5 separate regions of the Homo sapiens genome follow, and all the other regions are reported to be linked to region 4. The links are microRNA targets in miRTarBase. Many come from high-throughput screens and were not tested one by one. Region 4 holds a microRNA gene; each other region holds the end of a gene's coding sequence.

Region 1 (3,594 bases), not on the chromosome of region 4:
ATAGTGCACTGCAGCTTTATGTCATACCAACATTCAAATATTCAAATATCCTTCCAATCCATTTGGACAAAAATACACCATGGCTGCCAAGACACATGTATTTTTCTTTCTTCCATGGACTCCTAAACTGCTCCCACAATCAGCAGTGTTCTTCTCTCAGAAATTATCTTAAGCTTCTCTACTCAATGGGAGGTACACACAGAGACCTGAGAATATGCAGAGGCCAGAATCTCTGTCTGTGCTAGAGATCAACTGTACTCTGCCCACCTGGGGAACACATCCTCTGGGTAAAGTACTCGGAAGTAAATTACATTCACCTGGAGACAGATACGGGCTTTCACTGACAGCCTGTTTAGAAAACACAATGTCTGTAAGTTACCTCATAGGTCAAAGAGTTTTGTATTATATTTTTCATAATGGGCTATGGCCTTTTTACCCTGTTTTAATACAGAGCAACTGCAGAAGGACATGAATTAAAGCAGACTGCAAAAAAGAATAATCAGTTTTGGTATCGCCTATAACAAAGATTTTCAATACAACCTAATGGTTCCTGAAAAAAAATTCTACCACACAGAACAACATTTGGAATTACAGAGTTCTGCTGACTAAAAAATAAATACATTTACTTTTGGTAAGGTCATTTCAGAACTGGGTTTTGAGGTGGTTCCAATAAGTAGGTTGGGAAACGAATAGCAGACAAGAAGGGTTCACCATAATGAATAATTTTTATAAGACTATACTATTAAAGTGGTGTATTCCCAAAATAACTTTAATTTTTAGACATCACTATTCTACAACCCGAAGGTTCTGCCATCTAAGTAAGATGTTTTACATCACTCATCACTATCATCCTGTTATTTCATTTTCATTTTTTCTTCATTAAAAAAAATTTCCCATATAAAAATAAGGTGGCAAAACACTCTTGTTCCCATCTTTCTAACAGCACCTAAACTCTGTGTGAGCCACTATGTTCCCTACTTCAAATCAAAGACCTGAGTTCTAAAATTCTCAATAGCTGACCAGTAGTTTGACAATCTGGGGACTCAAGTTCAGATTCTCGAGGGGTTGAACATTAGACATCCATTAGAGTGTACCAAATCCCCCAAGAGTGTATCCCAATGACACGTGCATATGAGCATGGGGCCTCTGAGAAGATGAAGACACATAATTATTATGGACAGGTCATCTGATTTTGACTATTGCTTTGAACAAAAATCTTCCCAAAAATACACACGAAAATATATTTATATTTAACCCTCTCTTTAACATAGTTTCTGATGAAACAAATTAAAAATGGCCCTACTTTATTTTTAATTGTAAAAGTGTTCCAAAAATTCAAAGCACATTCCCCATTGGGTAAAATCAAGCAATGCCAACATTTTGTGGGAATAAATAGGAATTAATTTTCCTAAGCAAATCTTCCAATGGAAAAAGTGACAGAAGTATGAAGAAACTGCATTTTGCTAGGGTTATGTGGAATGTGCAAAGAGTATAGGTTTTCTGTAAGCTTAAGAATTTCTCAATGAAGTGTCTTTCTTATGTTAGTATTGAGCCCAGTATTCTGAAACCACATAAAGTGAATATGCAGTTTTCAGAAGAGTACACTGTTCAACATTCAAGAGGCGAGCTCTCAACTCACCTCCAACATTCTAGAGAACCATCCCTCTCCTCCAGCATAGGAGAAGGAACAAGTCTAACCTGAGTGCTCCATCCATCTGTTCTCATTGGCCTCAGTCCGTTTCAGAGTCATCTGCCATAACTTAAGGTCACGTGGATGCAAGCAGTGTCAGCCTTGGGCCCCCGCTCCCCGCCCTTAGGAAGCTGTCTGCCAATTCCTCCACATGCTAGGGAAAGACGCCAATCCCTAAATTTCCCTGGGAAATACCTAGCAGGTATCATATTTGTCAAGGGGTAATTCTCTTTTTCTGATCTAGGGAGAAGTAGTCTAGGTCCTCACGCCTTCCCCATTTTCATCCCCAAAAGAAGATCCTATTACCCCAAGTTTCTCAGGAGCTTTCACAGTCTGACATCCAAAAGTTAAATCAACTTCACAGGGCCCTTCCTATACCCTCGAATAAGTCTCCAACACCCAGTTCTCTCTCTGCCTATGGATGAAGGTGCCGGGCTGCCTCTAAGAAGATTGGCTCGAGTGCAGATTCAAAAATAAAAAGTTCACAGTCAATGAAAAGTGCTCTCATTACATTACATACATAAATTATCTGTTTGATTGGTTCTACATTTCCAACAGACATCATTTTGATAGGCTGTATTCTCGTAGAGAAGAATGAAAAGCCATGTGACTAGTCACATCACACCCCATTAGTCTGAGATAAGGTGATTTCTCTGTCACAGAGATCCATCAGCAGCAACTAGTAAAGAGAATCAATCTTCACTTTTTTCCTCCACAGAAATAGTCCCTTTCCTGCCCAGGCAGGCAAATTCTCAAAATGATCCTAGGAGAGAAAGGGTTAATGGCAGGTGGTAGGACTGATACAGAACAGCTGCTTTCTTCCCAGTACCCCTGGGAATTCCAATGCAGGTTAAATGTGAAACTTAACACTGATAGTGGCTACCAGTTTATCCAGAGCCAGCCCCTGATGGCTCTCACACTTTTTGGCTCCGAGTTCAACCCCACACAGCTATGGTTTAGAAATGTAGACGCAGGGCTGGGCATGGTGGCTGAGGCCTGTAATCACAGCACTTTGGGAGGCAGAGGAGGGTGGATCACCTGAGGTCAAGAGTTCAACACCAGCCTGGCCAACATGGTGAAACCCCGTCTCTAAAAAAAAAAAATAAAACTTAGCCGGGCATAATGGCAGGTGCCTGTAATCCCAGCTACTCGGGAGGCTGAGACAGGAGAATGGCTTGAACCCAGGGACAGAGGCTGCAGTGACCCGAGACCCCACCATTGCACTCCAGCCTGAGCGACTGAGCAAGACTCCGTCTCAAAACAAACAAACAAAAAAAAAACGAACAAACAAAAAGAAATGTAGAGGCAGAATGCCTCTAGCAAGTCCCTACCCCAACCCTGCACAGCCTCCTCCCACACTGTGCCCAGTGGGGCAGTCATAGTGCTGTGTCGAACTCCTCCGGGGGCTCGGTCCGATCCTCTTCATGGGGCTCAGGCTCGAGCCGGCTGTCCTGGTGCTGTTTCATTTGTTCCTTCACTTCTTCTTCCAGGTCATGAGGCACAACAAACTGGTCCTCTGGTTCCATCTGAGTGGGGGCAGCAAAATAGCCAGTTTTCCTCTTGGGCACTTCTGTGGCCACTTCAATGAGGTTCAGGCTGTCCTCTAGGGGCACAATAGAGCCATTGGAGAGTTTCTTCCCATAGAGGCAGGAGGTGGAGGGAGACTTCTGTAACTCCATCCTGTCCTTGCTCATTGGCAGGAGCATGCCACTATTCACACTGTTCTGTCTTCGGATCCCAAAACACGACCCTCTAGCATGTTCCTCAGAACACAGGGTAGGAGAACTCTCTATGAGAGGGGGTGAGTTCTCCAGATCCCTCCCCCTGCAGCAGTGGATGTCTACTTCCACCTCTACCTTGCTGCCATTGGTTATGACCCCCTCAACGGGCTGGTCATCATCACT
Region 2 (3,594 bases), not on the chromosome of region 4:
GGCGGGGGCTGCGGACCATGTGCGTCTCCTGGTGCCACTGGTGCTGGAGCCGGGCCTGTGGAGCCTGGTGCCGGGCGTGGACACTGTGGCGAGGGACCCTCGCTGCTGGGCCGTGCGCAGGACGCAGCTTGAGTTCTGCCCCCGTGGGAGCAGCCCCTGGGACCGCTTCCTGGTCGGGGGCTACCTCTCCTCCCGCGTCCTGCTGGAGCTACTCCGCAAGGCGCTGGCTGCTTCTGTCAACTGGCCGGCCATTGGCAGCCTTCTCGGGTGCCTGATCCGGCCCAGCATGGCCTCGGAGGAGCTGCTGCTCGAGGTGCAGCACGAACGCCTGGAGCTCACTGTGGCTGTGCTTGTGGCAGTCCCTGGGGTCGATGCTGACGACCGCCTCCTCTTGGCCTGGCCCCTGGAGGGGCTGGCGGGGAACCTCTGGCTGCAGGACCTGTATCCAGTGGAGGCTGCTAGGCTGCGAGCCCTGGACGACCATGACGCTGGGACTCGCCGGCGGCTGCTGCTGCTGCTGTGTGCTGTCTGCCGTGGTTGCTCGGCTCTGGGGCAGCTAGGCCGGGGTCACCTGACCCAGGTGGTCCTGCGTCTGGGGGAGGACAACGTGGATTGGACGGAGGAGGCCTTGGGTGAGCGCTTCCTGCAAGCCCTGGAGCTGCTCATCGGCAGCCTGGAGCAGGCCAGCCTGCCCTGCCACTTCAACCCCAGCGTGAACCTCTTCAGCAGCTTGCGTGAGGAGGAGATTGACGACATTGGCTATGCGCTATACAGTGGCCTACAGGAGCCCGAGGGGCTGCTCTAGGTGGGTGGAAACGGGTGGTTGCCATGTTTTCTAATGCTGGGGAGCTGCACCCACCTCCCTTCCAGGGATTTGAATAGTGGTTTTTCTCTAGCTTTTTGCCAGAACAAAGGAGGGTACATTACTTAAACCCAGGGCATCAGGATGTGCTTGGGCTATGGTGGCCATAAACCCTGAGCCCAGAGAGCTTGGGTCACTGTCACCTGAGTGCAGCTGGGCTGCCTCAGGCAGCTTGGAGTGCCAGCCATTCCTGCAAGCACCGTTTCAGCTCTTGGGGCCAACCCCAGGACCTTTGGCTCTGTCCATCACCAGCAACCAATCCACCAACAGAATGTGGTTTCTGCCATCCTGGGCAGAAGCTGAAGGCCAGCTTCACATTTCTGCTGAGAGAAGGTGACTTAACGCCTTTTCCGGCCCTAGCTCCAGGCGTTTTGAGGCGTCTGGTGCCTGATGGTAGGTATGGTGTGTTTGTTCTGTCCCCCAGGGGCTGGAGTCACCTGGTGCCCCTGAAGGACAGATTTTTGGCTGTTAAAGGATGGCATTTTCCTGCTGTCTTCTGTGCGTTTAGTTTTCTTGCTGAGCGGGAGCTCAGTATGACTTGCCACCCACCTGATACCTCAGGGCAAGGCCCTTTTTCCCTCCAGCCAGGTGAGTGTTTTCTTCAGGCAGCTGAGGGTCCTGGGGGAGCTGAGGCTCTGTGCTGCACCCCCAGCCCACAGCTGGGGCATCTCACTGGAGCTGTTCCAGGCCCCACTGGAGAGCAGAGGACCTGATCCCCCACTAGAGAGGTCCGGTGTGCACAGCCGGCCTCCCAGTGTGCCAAAATGAACTGCTCTCAGCTGATGGCTGTATTCTGACTTTGAAGCCTGTTAAGAGGTAGCAAGGGGGCTAGAGGAGGGAGATTCCACCTCCCCTCCCAAGTGACCCTCCTCCTGCCTCTGGTATCCTTCCTTTTGAAACGAAGCTCAGCTTCGAAGATGTGAACAAGAATAAAAGGAAAAAATTCTAATGTATATATAACTCAGGCTGGATAAGGGAGTCTTGGTGCTTTCATACGCAGCTGTTGAGGGTTTTCTGTAAGTCCTGTGGCTTGTCCTGGCACTTTGGCAAGAGTGCTTGAGGTCAATTGGAGGTGGTAGAGTTTACTTTAAAAAGTAGCATCTTGGCCGGGTGTGGTGGCTCGCATCTGTAATCCCAGCACATCGGGAGGCCGAGGCGGGCGGATCACGAGGTCAAGAGATCGAGACCATCCTGACCAACATGATGAAACCCCAACTCTACTAAAAAGACAAAAATTAGCTGGGCGTGGTGGCACGCACCTATAGTCCCAGCTACTCGGGAGGCCGAGGCAGGAGAATTGCTTGAACCCGGGAGGTAGAGGTTGCAATGAGCTGAAATTGCACCACTGCACTCCAGACTGGCGACAGAGCAAGACTCTGTCTCAAAAAAATAAATAAATAAGCATCTTGGCCCCGCGCTGTGGCTCACGCCTATAATCCCAGCACTTTGGGAAGCCGAGGCCGGTAGATCACCTGAGGTTGGGAATTCAAGACCAGGCTGACCAACGTGGAGAAACTCCATCTCTGGTAAAAATTCAAAAAAATTAGCTGGGCATGGTGGCACATGCCTGTAATCCCAGCTACTTGGGAGGCTGAGGCAGGAGAATTGCTTGAACCCGGGAGGCGGAGGTTGTGGTGAGCTGAGATCGTGCCAGTGCACTCCAGCCTAGGCAACAAGAGTGAAACTCTGTCTCAAAATAAAATAAAATAAAATAATAATAGTAATAATAAATTAGCATCTCAGTCTGTTTGGGCTGTGATAACAAAATGCCATAGACTAGGTGGCTTATAAACATCAGAAATTTATGTCTTACCATTTTGGAGGCTAGAAATCCAAGAGTGAGTCACAGATTCCATGTTTGGTTGAGAGCCCACATCCTGGTTCATAGGTGTCCCCATCTAGCTGTCCTCATGTGGAGGAAGGGGGGAAATGCTCTCCTAGGGTCTCTTATAAGGAAACTAAGCCCACCCATGGGGTGGGGGCCCACATTCATGATCGAATCACTTCCCAAAGACCCCATCTCCTGTTAGCAGTGCCTTGGGGGTTAGGATTTCAGCATACAAGTTGAAGGGGACACAGACTTTCTGTCCGTGACAAGTAAGGTAAGTGGAAGGAAAAGATGAAAAGCTTGGTGTTGCTTTAGTAATGGGAACCAGCCAGTTTGGGATGTTTCTTCCCGCAAGGCTGAACTGCTGAGCCCTGCACCATACTTTCTGTAATTAGTGGGCTGTTGACAGCCCTTCAGCCATGCTCATCATTTTTTAGAAACCTGTGTTTTTTTTCTTTTGAGAGTGAGTATCACTCTGTCGCCCAGGCTGGAGTGCAGTGGTGCGATCTCGGCTCACTGCAACCTCTGCCTCCCGGGTTAAAGCAATTCTTCTGCCTCAGCCTCCCGAGTAGCTGGGACTACAAGTGCGCGCTACCACGCTCGGCTAATTTTTGTATTTTTAGTAGAGATGGATTTTCACCATGTTGGCCAGGATGGTCTTGATCTCTTGACCTTGTGATCTGCCTGCCTTGGCCTCCCAAAGTGCTGGGATTACAGGCATGGGCCACCGCACCCGGCCAGAAATGTGTGTTCTCTACCTCCCTTGCACCTCTTTGTGGCTGCACAAGTGGGGAGGAAACTTGCCCCGCCTTGTGCAGGTGAGAGGCCAGGGCATCTTAACCCTCTCACCCGCAAGAGCCAAAGCCAGGGCTCACTTCCTATCACCAGATGACACATGTGGGCT
Region 3 (3,594 bases), not on the chromosome of region 4:
TCAAAGTCATCATTTCAAGAGAAAACTGAGGCTTTAACTGGTTTGCATAGGGTGACAAGGCTGGTTAATGGTGAACAGAGACCATGTTAATAACTGAGTCTGCTCCAGTATGCCTCTCCCTACTTATGGCAACCCCAAATCCTGTATTTCTCAAGGAGATTTTGATTTCAAGCATTCTACCCTTTCCACTGTCAAGAGTATTTGCATCTGACAGTTGCCCCACCCCAACTTGGGGCTTAGCCGGAGTTATGGTCACGCCAACTGCATATCATTGAGCATCTGAGTTGACCATCTGTCTCTGCTAAGAGCTGACTCTTCCATTTCCTTTTTAAGACCTGACTTGAGAGAGTCAATACCTCAGGCATTGTAGAAATTGCGGTCATTCTAAAATATAAAAGTGTAAAGTTTATATTAATATTTAATTCATACAATTGGAAAGAACTTTAAACTGCAATTAGGTGTCAGTACCCATCTGCTTCCAGCAGGCTCACACGCTCTTCGATCCCTCGGAGGCCGCAGAGGGCCACGATCACCTTCGAATGTGCTCCTTAACAATGTGCCCACAGTCTCTCAGGAGGGAGCTCCAGATGGTGAAGGAAACTCTGCAGGCCATGATCCTGCAGCTCCAGCCAGCAAAGGAGGCGGGAGAAAGAGAAGCTGCAGCTTCCTGCATGACAGCTGGTGTCCACGAAGCACAAGCCTGAGGAGTGACGGGATGGGGGAGGGAGGTGGGCCACCATGTTTGGACCCGGGGGGCTGCTCTTCCCTCCCCCGCCATAGCTAAGATGCCTGAATCAATTACGGAGATACAGAGCCTTGAGGTCTTTCAGTGGAAAGGTGGTTCATGTTCATTCTCATCAGTGTGAAACTGAGGAGTCTGCAATTTGGAATATGGAGAGAGAGACTGATTTGCTGAATTTCCTTCTAAATGTCACTCAAAAATTTCTTTTCCATGTCATTCTTGGGAATGTCTTCCACAGGATTTGAGAATAGTTTCATCTCAGCCCCCATTAGAGAGAAGTTGGGGTGAATTCTGGAAAAATGTCTCTTTTTCCTGTGCCATTTGCCTTCTGCTGCAACGAAAATATTTCCTGATTCAAGATTCTATAAAAAGGAAACCAAGCATAAGACTCTGTCATCATACCTGTTACACGTTCCTACAGGTGCACAATCTAAGAGAGCTAATTAACCTCAGAGTCTGGAGTTAACAGCTTTTCACCTTACTTCTCCTGTGATCTAATATTATCTTAGAAAAATTAATATGCAATTTCCAAAAGATATTTTGGTAAGACAACAACCTCCCAGTGATATGCCACCTTTCAATTTTCCTTTTGTGGCAATGATTGCATCTGAAGAAAGGATCCCTGAGAGTCTCTGTTTCATCAGGACATTCTGAAATTTACCCACAGTGAGGCTGTGGATGGATCAGGGGACCTGTATAAAATGTTTGAGCCTGTTCCATTTTCCCGTGGAACCTGTTTCACTCAATGCCAGGCAGTGCAGCATTTAGGAAAGCAGTGCAGTACTCAGTAAGGCAGTGCAGTACTCAGTAACACAATACAGTACTCAGGCAGTGCAGTACTCAGTAAGACAGTGCAGTGCTCAGTAAGGCAGTGCAATACTCAGTAACAGTGTAGTACTCAGTAACAGTGAAGTACTCAGTAATACAGTACAGTATTCAGTAAGGCAGTGAAGTACTCAGTAATACAATACAGTACTCAGTTAGGCAGTGCAGTACTCAGGAATGCAGCACAGTACTCAGGCAGTGCAATACTCAGTGCGGTACTCAGTAACACAGTGCAGTACTCAGTAACAGTGCAGTACTCAGTAACAGTGCAGTACTCAGTAAGGCAGTGCAGTACTCAGTAACACAGTGCAGTACTCAGTAATACAGTACAGTACTCAGTAAGGCAGTATGGTACTCAGTAAAGCAATGCAATGCTCAGTAACACAGTGCAGTGCTCAATAAGGCAGTGCAGTGCTCAGTAAGGCAGTGAATTGCTTAGTAACACAGTGTAGTGCTCAGTAGGACAGCATAGTACTCAGTAACACAGGGCAGCTAGTACTCAGTACTATAAGTACTGAGTACTTATATAGGCAATGTAGTACTCAGTAAATCAGTGCAGTACTCAGTAATGCAAGGGCATTTCAGGCTCCTGCTGGGCTGCTTCTTTGGCCCAGCTGGGACTCCTATTGAGACAGCTGCAAAACAGGCTGATTTCAATTAGGCAGCACTTCCCAAAGTGCACTGAGGAAGGTGGCCCCAAGAGAAGCTCTCTAAACAAAGGAGTACCCTCTCTGGTCAAGTACCTTTGGTAAATACACCATACCATAATATCTGCTTGGAGAACCACAATGCACATTAGCATATTAGTCTGAGAGAGAACTTATAGTAAGGAAACTCACTTGATTTTATCTAACCTCAAACTTTCCAAGTTTAATGGATCGTGAATTTTTTTCATGTAACTCCTATTCATATCCCATAGATCTAGTATTGTACAGCACTGCATTCTCTGAGGAAGTCCCAGTCCAAACTCTGATTTACATCACTTTAGAAACCACACTCACACTTTTGCAGAGTGTTGAGCTTAATAACTACCTGCCACAGATTGGTAAATTTAATCCAGTGGTTGTTCTGTTTGTGCTTCTGTTCTCATTTATGTGTTTAGGGATAGTGAGGTTCCTGCCTTCACTAGGATCCACGGATATGAGACCATTTTTGTCATTTCCTGAAGTCACACTGGCGTTTCCAGAAGGCATCTGGTGCTTTGCTCAGCCTTCCATGCTGTGCAGCACTTCTGTCCTCAGTCAAGGAGATGGCCATGCTTAAGCCAGCAATTGGCTGGGGTCCAGGAAACAAAGCAAAAGCACAATATGTGAATGTGCTGATTGTGTTCCCTATGGCTTTATCTCGAGCAAAATACACTCTACATATTTTAATAATAAGTATAATTAGCTTGTTCCTGGACTTCATTTTCAATGATGAACCAAATTCCTGAATTATTTATAATTGTGTCTAAAGAAAATTATGAACTGGTCACATGGCACTTGGAATCCTTGAGTTAATTCCAGTGAAGCAAAACTTGGGAAGAGTCAGGATTGGCCACATTGCCAATAACAAATTCCTACTTCGACATATGTCTTTTCAAAAAGCCTCCCAGACACAAGACATCTTAACCGTCACTAGCCCAAGTGTTTTGTATTACTCAGACACCATCATGAAATAATTCTGTGAGGTCATGATGTATTTGAAAATTCTGCAAGTTAATAACTGCCTTGAATTGTTTGAACCCGAAATAAGGGTTCTTTGGTACCTCTAGTAGATAGTGTGTTCATTTCCCTGCTGCAAATTTTGAAGTATTTGGGCAGGTGAGTCATGTTTTAACCACAAGCCATAACTCATCTGTTGTCTTTGCTTGGTCTTAGAGTATCATTCAGAAAGTCCGCTAAGGGCCAGCGTGCTTCTTCTGGCTACACAACCTTCTCAGGACAAGCCCACTGTCTTAAGCCACTTTGACCCTGGGAGACACAGGACTGTGTATCCTCAATCATACTATACAGCAGTTTTTGTCAGGGGAACATAAAAATATCCAA
Region 4 (3,594 bases):
GCAGAGCTGCGTCCCCAGGAGGGGTGGGGGCATGGCAGAGATCAGCAGTAAGGACACAAAAATGGGGAGGGCTGCTTGACGGGTGAGGAGCTCCCCGTCATGCAGGGCATGCAAGTAGAGCAGCAGATGCCCAACATCTAGGGAAGCTGTAAAGGAACTTCCTGGGATCCAAGGGCCCTTCCTTTCTCCCAGAGTCTACATTTCTAGTGAGAATGGTGGGGGACAGCCAGGTCAGAGAGGGAGCGTGTGTTTGGAGAAAGCAGGTAGTGGGAAGGGCAGTAAAACTAGGGCCATTCGGGGGAAATGAGGAATCATCTTAGCCATCTCCACCAGTTCTCTACCTCTCCCCACCAGCTTGGGGGCCACCCCTCCAACTCAGTGACTGTGGGTCACCTCTGTCTGTGGCCAGGCCCTCCGAGCTTCCCATCATGAACAATGCCCCTGAGAGACCCTAAGGCGTGTTGCAGGAATGAGCAGAAGACAGGCTGCTCACATCATCCCTTCTAACACCATGGGGCATGGCCTCAGCATGTTTCAGTCTTGCCCTGAGTGCCTTAGGGATGTCAGCGGCTCTACATAAAGTCAGGCCATGGTGCTATCCAAGGGCTGTGATGTGCGGCCAGCAGCAGGCAGTCAGTAGAGCTTGGTGAGTTCATTATTTCTCTCTCCAGCCCTCAGTTCAGAACACAGGGGTACAACCCTGAATGCCAGAAGGAGGAATCAGCCAGTTATCCGTGGTCAGACCTGGAGGTTGCAGAGAGATAACTTTGGTTTGTACAGGGGTCCCTGGAGAAATCAGAAAAAACAGCCGTTCTGAATTCAGACCCCTGAGTGGCCTGGCTGGCCATAGTATTGCCACTTTCTACTGCCCCAAGGGAAGCCCTGTGCTTGGTGGGGCTGGTGTTCTATCTGAAACCAGGAGAGACACAAAAAGGCTACAGCCATAGGGGAGGGAGCAGGTTTCTGTGGAACTAAGGAAACTCCAGAGAGTCTATTGTACAGTGTGTCTGGGTCACCTCCATCTGTAGACCCTGGAAGCACTTGGCTTCATTACCTCACTCTCAGCTCTGAATCCCACAGTTCAGGGCTGCAGCCACAGCAGAACAGCTCTGCCTCCACCCAGCTGTTCCTGCTGAAGCCCCCGGCGTCACCCTCAGGGCGTCCTGAGCTGTGGCACCTCCACAGTGGAGACCCATCCATCACAGAGCCCATCAACGGCCCAGCGCCACCCGGAAGGGGCCAACACCGATGTCAACTAGGGCCACTCTGAAAGCCGCCAGGGCGCGGCCCCAAGGGCAAGATGGATGGGCGGAACCAGCCACTTTAAGGCTGTGTTTATGGGACACCCAAACAGCTGGTCAATCCCCCGGGACCATCACTCACCCAGCTACCAGGGGTCCCTGACAGGCTTGGAGATTGCGTTGCCGTCTTAACTCCAGCAGCACTTAGAGTCTTAGCCTATCAGGCTGAGGGGTCCTGTCCCAGCCACCGGCACTTGACAGATGAGGCACCTGAGCCCCAGCAAGGAGGGCACGTGGCTGCCAGGATCACCCAGGCTGTGAGCAGAAGATGGGCTTGAACCTGGTCCCCCCTCCAGCCAGGGCTCAGAGGGCCCTCTAGTCTCCTGTGCACACACGCAGGCCTTGGCTTGTCTCTGGCACTTTTAGTAATGGAAGGCTTGTCCGCCTGGATGTACGAGCTCTCTCTAGAGACATACCTGATTTTTGGTTTAGTCATGTTCTCATGTTCTACTCAGGGGAGACCAGAGAGGAGCTGCACTTTTACTTCCTCTAGGAAATGACCTCCCCTCCCTCCCTCCATCCCTTCCTTCCTTCCTTCCTTCCTTCCTTCCTTCCTTCCTTCCTTCCTTCCCTCTTTCCCTTTCTTCCCTCTTTCCCTTCTTTCCCTTTTCCTTCCTTCTTCCTTCCCTCTTTCCTTCTTTCCTTCCCTCTTTCCCTTCATTCCTTCCTTTTCTCTTCCTTCCCTCTTTTCATTTCCTTCCTCCCTCCCTCTTTCCCTTCCTTCTTTCCTTTTTTCTTCCTTCCCTCTTCCCTTCCTTCCTTCCTTCCTTCTTTCCCTTCCTTCCTTCCCTCCCTCCCTTCCTTCCCTATTTCCTTCCCTCCCTCCCTTCCTTCCTTTCATCCCTTTTTCCCTTCCTTCCCTCCTTCCTTCCTTCCTTCTTTCCATCCCTTTCCTTCCCTCCTTCCTTTCTTCCTTCTTTCCCTTCCTTCCTTTTTTCCCCTTCACTTTCCTTCCTTCCTTCCCTCCCTCTTTCTCTTCCTTCCCTCCCTCCCTTCCCTCTTTTCCTCCCTCCCTTCCTTCCTCCCTTCCTTCCTTGCTTCCTTCCTTCCCTCTTTCCCTCCCTCCCTCCCTTCCTTCCTTCCCTCTTTCCCTCCTTCCCTTCACTCCTTCCCCCTCCCTCCCTCCTTCCTTTTGACAGATGAGTCTGTTGATGTAGGAAAAAGAGAACATAGAATATCTAGCCCAGAGTCACTACCTACACCTCAAACAGCCCAAAGAAGTCAGTAGATTGGGGTTTCTGAGGAAGAAAGAATCTGGTGAGTAAGGAGGTCACCCCACTTCATAGCAAAGCTCATTTTTCCTGGGGAGGAGGGCAGGAGGGTTAAGGGAAGAACACAGGCTCACCTCATTCTGTCCCTTTGATTTTACCTTCTCCTCAGAAGTGTCCATGTCCCCACCTATGAAGTGGGGTCACTAACATGTATAGGGCTGGGTGAGCGGGGAATGAAATGATGGGTGTGCCATTGATTTCCTTATGATGAGACACCTTCCAAAACCAACAAGTATTGTTACTAATAAAAACAACATGAGCCAGACACCACAACTGTTTCTCATAAAGTGCCATTTTAAGGTAGTCAGCTTTAGAAAGAAATTTGTTACAAAGAACAATATACAAACCCACCATATGCAAAAGTTATCTCAAAGTGGATCAAAGACCTAAATGTAGGAGATAAAACTACAAAGCTCTTAGAAGAAAACTAGAAGTAAATCTTTGTATACTTGCATTCTTAGATATGACACCAGAAACATAAGCAACAAAAGAAAAAACAGATATATTGGACTTCATCAAAATTAAAAACTTTTGTGCCTCAAAGAACACCATCAGGAAGGTAAAAAGAGAACTCACAGAGTGGGAAAAAATATTTGCAAGCTATATATCTGAAAAAGGTCTTTTGTCCAGAATATAAGAAGAACTCATCAGTAAAGGCAAATTTTCTTCAGTGGGCAAAGGATCTGAATAAATATTTATTCAAATATTTTTCCAAATATTGGCAATACAAATGCCAATAAGCACATGAAAAGATGCTCAATACCACTGTGCAAATGAAGTCCACACCGAGATACCACTTCACACCCACGAGGATGGCTAACATCAAAAAGACAGATGATAACAAGCATTGGTGAGGATGCAGATAAGGTGAAACCCTCATATATTGCTAATGGGAACACAAAATGGTGCCGCTACTATGGAAAACAGTTTAACAATTCCTCAAAATGTTAAAAAGAGTTACTGTATGACCTCAATCCACTTCTAGGTGCATGCCCAGGAGAAATGAAAACATCCACATAAAA
Region 5 (3,594 bases), not on the chromosome of region 4:
CTCCGTCTCAGCTGCCTATGGGCAGAACTCTCTGGGAAGCTCTGGCCTCTCCCAGCAGCACAATAAGGGGACCCTGAACCCTGGTTTAACAAAGCCACCGGTCCCAAGGGTGTCACCAGCCATGGGAGGCCAGAATTCCTCCTGGCAGCATCAGGGAATGCCGAACCTCAGTGGCCAGACCCCAGGGAACAGCAACGTGAGTCCCTTCACTGCAGCCTCCAGTTTCCACATGCAGCAGCAGGCCCACCTGAAAATGTCTAGCCCGCAATTCTCCCAGGCAGTGCCCAACAGGCCCATGGCTCCCATGAGCTCAGCAGCTGCCGTGGGGTCCTTGCTACCCCCAGTGAGTGCACAGCAGAGGACCAGCGCCCCTGCCCCAGCACCACCCCCAACAGCCCCTCAGCAGGGCTTGCCTGGCCTGAGCCCAGCAGGGCCTGAGCTGGGGGCCTTCAGCCAGAGCCCTGCCTCACAGATGGGCGGTCGGGCGGGGCTGCACTGCACCCAGGCCTACCCTGTGCGGACCGCGGGCCAGGAGCTGCCTTTTGCCTATAGCGGGCAGCCAGGTGGCAGTGGGCTCTCTAGTGTGGCTGGACACACCGATCTGATCGACTCCCTGCTGAAGAACAGGACTTCAGAGGAGTGGATGAGTGATTTGGACGACCTGTTAGGGTCTCAGTAATGGAAGGATTTGTAGTGTTTTTAGTGTTCATTCATCCTATATTTTTATTCTCAGATTCAAAGAAAGAGCAACTACTTTGGACCAAAAGCCCATGGCCTGGGGAGCTGGGCAGGTAGAGCCCAAGCTCCAGGTGAGGCCTGGCCCTGGGCAGGGTCTGTGGCTGCGCCCCTCAGGCCAGCAGTTGAGGTCCATCGGGCTGGCCCCAGCCCATCTGCTGGCATCAGTACCTGGTGTTGGGACAGCAGGATAGGGTTCTAAAGGTGGTTTTCTATCCAAACGACCAAAAAACCAACAGTAACACCAGTGAAACCCCACACTGTCGGGCTTATAAAAATCTGTGCCATCATGGTGATTTTATCCAAGACTGCTCCACTTACCCCAGTGCTGGGGACAAGTTTCTGTTGAAACTTTAGATAGCAGAATTATTTGCAATTTGTAGCATAGAAAAGATTTTTAAATTTTTTTACAAAAGGTTTTTAAACAGATTAGGGTAGGTGATGGTTTAAATCAATTAAGTGGCATTGGAAACCTAGGGTTTCCTTTTGATTAAGAGCCTTTTTTGTTTCTGCTCTTTGTCAGCTTTCAGGGGAGAAGGAGGCCACTGGAAAATTATTTCCCTAAGTGCAGGCTGTTGACTGCGTATGCCAAAAAGGGACAGGAGGCATGGGATAGCAGGTCTGGTGACACAGCTAGGGTCTTCCTAGCAGCTCCTCCTCCTCCCTCCCAAGGCCCCCAGGAATCCCTTCCTCCCATGTCCTGGCAGCAGGACCCCAGGCTACATATGGAAGGTAGAGATGTGGGGGTCCTGTATCCTGGAGTATTATGTCTCCCCACCTTCTGCAGTTTTCTCTGAACATGTATGTTGCCCATGGTGGGAGCGTGGTCACTGTGCAGTTGTGCACAGATGTCTTTCCTTTACCGTTGGCCTTTCTGTCTGCCTCTCCTTCCTCTCTGCAGCCCAAATGGAAAACAATTATTTACTCCATTGGAGGGAAAGGAAGAGTCTTAGAATTCCTAAGGGAACCTTAGCATAAAGGTTTTGGGGAAGGAGGCCGTAGGCCGGCCCGGAGGAAGCAATTCCACTTGGTTTGACAACTTCTGCCACTCCCATGTCAGATGACTTGCACTTCTTAAAGAGATTGCTTTATAACACTAAGACATCCTTTCTAAAGATTCAAGTGGACTTGACTAAGCTGAGGGTCCACGAAATAGAATATGACATGTGAGCTGTTTTTGGAAAACGAAGATGGAGAGAGCACTTCCCCGTAACGAAAGCAAAGTGGTAAGCACAGGGTGAGACCCTTTTACACAGAATGGTGGAGAGAAAAGAGAATGCTGAAAAGTGGCTCAGATGCAGAGTGTTCTGTGGAGAAACTGCAGCCCCACTTCTGTTTCCCTGGAGTCTCCCAATGGATCATTCAGGAGTGTCCTATGTGAGAATTGAGCCAAGGAAAATACTCATGCAACCAGCCTGAGTCGCGGTGAGGGGACGAGAGGTTGTACACACATTGGTAGTTATTTTGCACCAGCAGTGCCTTTCTCACTGGGGGTACTTGGACCCTCAGATCTTCTTTTCTAATAGCCATTTGCCACCCCAAGTGGTATGTCGGCCATTTCTCCTTAAAACACCTTCCCTACCTTTCCCATGTACTCAGTTTAGCTCTCAAAGAAGGGGTGAATCATAAAGCCAGTGAAAATTTCACCCTCTGAGGGAGTTCCCCAATCTGAAGGGGAAGAGGGTGACCTCAGCGGCTTTTCTCCCAAAAATCGGCTGAAGGCTGGTTGTGGATCCTTGTTCCTCTCCTGACCCCATCTGGCTGCTGCCCCGTCTCCCACCCCTGTCCCCGGGGCTCGCTGGCCCTGCACTCCGCCTTAGTCCTGGGGCCGGCGACACAGTGGGGGCTCCTCACTTGCTGCAGTGTCATAGCAATAAAATGTGATTCTTGGGGTCCCCCCAGGGAGCTGCCCATGGCTTTATTTATGAACCTGGTTTTCGGGAGTCAGGGGAGGAGATGACTTTGCTTCTGTGCACAGCCCCGTCTTCCAGGAGCCACAACTCAGAAGAAAAGGGTGCTCAGACTTTTGTTATACACATTTGCTTTGTGTAAATAAATGTTTACAATTTTATATGAAAGATGGAATAAGCGCTAGAGCTTCCAACTGTATATTTTTTACTTTTATAGATTTTAAAACTATGATCCTTTATATGTGTGTTTTGGGGGAGCTATGATAAGTTTTATGGCAAACGGTTGGTATTGTTAACTTTTTATTGTCATCAAAAGTTCATAAAAGTCCTATTAATCCCCATATTCTTCTACTGCCCTTAACTCTGGTATACACCAAAAAGAAATCTTTACTTTCCTTGTTTTATCATTATAAAAATAAAGTATTTTGCTAGTATGGAAACAACCTTTGTATTTGACGTCACCTGGGGTCTGCTGGCAGAAGTTTGGGGATTGGTTTTCTTTTGTAATTTAGCTGCTTGCTTTTCTTGGTTTTTTAATTTTTTCTTTTTAAAGAAATGCTTGTCGAGTCATAGATTTAGCTGCTTTCTTATTGCACATTGTTGGGTGGGAGCTGGTTTGGTTGAAGCCTCAGAGGAGCTTCTGTTATCTGCTGATAGATACTAAATTAGAGCTAGCATCACCCTGAGAAAGCAGGCTGGCCCCAGGACTCACGGGCGTCCATGCAGCTGATGGAGGGGAGCTGGACCGGACGACTGTGCTCTCTTAGCTCTAGCATCACCCTGAGAAAGCAGCCTGTCTCCGGGACTCACGGGCATCCATGCGGCTGATGGAGGGAGCTGGGCCGGACGACTGTGCTTCTCGTGCTTCATGTAGAACCCTTAGGTTTGCCCCTGAAGTCTGTCTGCTCCATGTACTATTTAGTTGCTTTTCAGCATAGAGCTTGGTTTT

Evidence for each region. The annotated mature microRNA hsa-miR-4291 reads UUCAGCAGGAACAGCU and lies in region 4 at 1,122-1,137, opposite strand. An mRNA with a match to its seed (bases 2 to 7 or 8) in the 3' UTR can be bound and repressed. Matches are read on the target gene's strand: a 7mer-m8 pairs with bases 2 to 8, a 7mer-A1 pairs with bases 2 to 7 and ends in A, and an 8mer does both.
Region 1: miRTarBase lists PHLPP2 as a target of hsa-miR-4291. Seed matches in the 3' UTR shown: 7mer-m8 at 2,360-2,366 and 7mer-m8 at 140-146.
Region 2: miRTarBase lists MIEF2 as a target of hsa-miR-4291. Seed matches in the 3' UTR shown: 7mer-m8 at 1,183-1,189.
Region 3: the mRNA of DISC1 is a reported target of hsa-miR-4291. Seed matches in the 3' UTR shown: 7mer-A1 at 911-917.
Region 5: miRTarBase lists MAML1 as a target of hsa-miR-4291. Seed matches in the 3' UTR shown: 7mer-A1 at 2,013-2,019.

What each region holds. Positions count from the first base shown.
Region 1 is chr16:71,645,824-71,649,417 of GRCh38, forward strand. It overlaps PHLPP2 (PH domain and leucine rich repeat protein phosphatase 2), which reads right to left. Exons shown (of 19, transcript NM_015020.3): 19 at 1-3,594. The coding sequence ends at 3,067. Among named protein-coding and RNA genes, the nearest start is that of MARVELD3, 21 kb to the left of the region's middle.
Region 2 is chr17:18,263,960-18,267,553 of GRCh38, forward strand. It overlaps MIEF2 (mitochondrial elongation factor 2), which reads left to right. Exons shown (of 4, transcript NM_139162.4): 4 at 1-2,593. The coding sequence ends at 805. Among named protein-coding and RNA genes, the nearest start is that of MIEF2, 5.1 kb to the left of the region's middle. RefSeq lists an enhancer at 3,344-3,594.
Region 3 is chr1:232,036,128-232,039,721 of GRCh38, forward strand. DISC1 (DISC1 scaffold protein) reads left to right here. Exons shown (of 13, transcript NM_018662.3): 13 at 565-3,594. The coding sequence ends at 704. It overlaps TSNAX-DISC1 (TSNAX-DISC1 readthrough (NMD candidate)), which reads left to right. Exons shown (of 16, transcript NR_028393.1): 16 at 565-3,594. Among named protein-coding and RNA genes, the nearest start is that of DISC1-IT1, 110 kb to the left of the region's middle. RefSeq lists an enhancer at 1,881-2,427.
Region 4 is chr9:93,816,910-93,820,503 of GRCh38, reverse strand. MIR4291 (microRNA 4291) reads right to left here and starts at 1,147; the gene lies at 1,083-1,147. The region is part of intron 1 of LOC101928014 (a long non-coding RNA gene); the gene reads right to left.
Region 5 is chr5:179,774,199-179,777,792 of GRCh38, forward strand. MAML1 (mastermind like transcriptional coactivator 1) reads left to right here. Exons shown (of 5, transcript NM_014757.5): 5 at 1-3,085. The coding sequence ends at 679. Among named protein-coding and RNA genes, the nearest start is that of LTC4S, 18 kb to the right of the region's middle.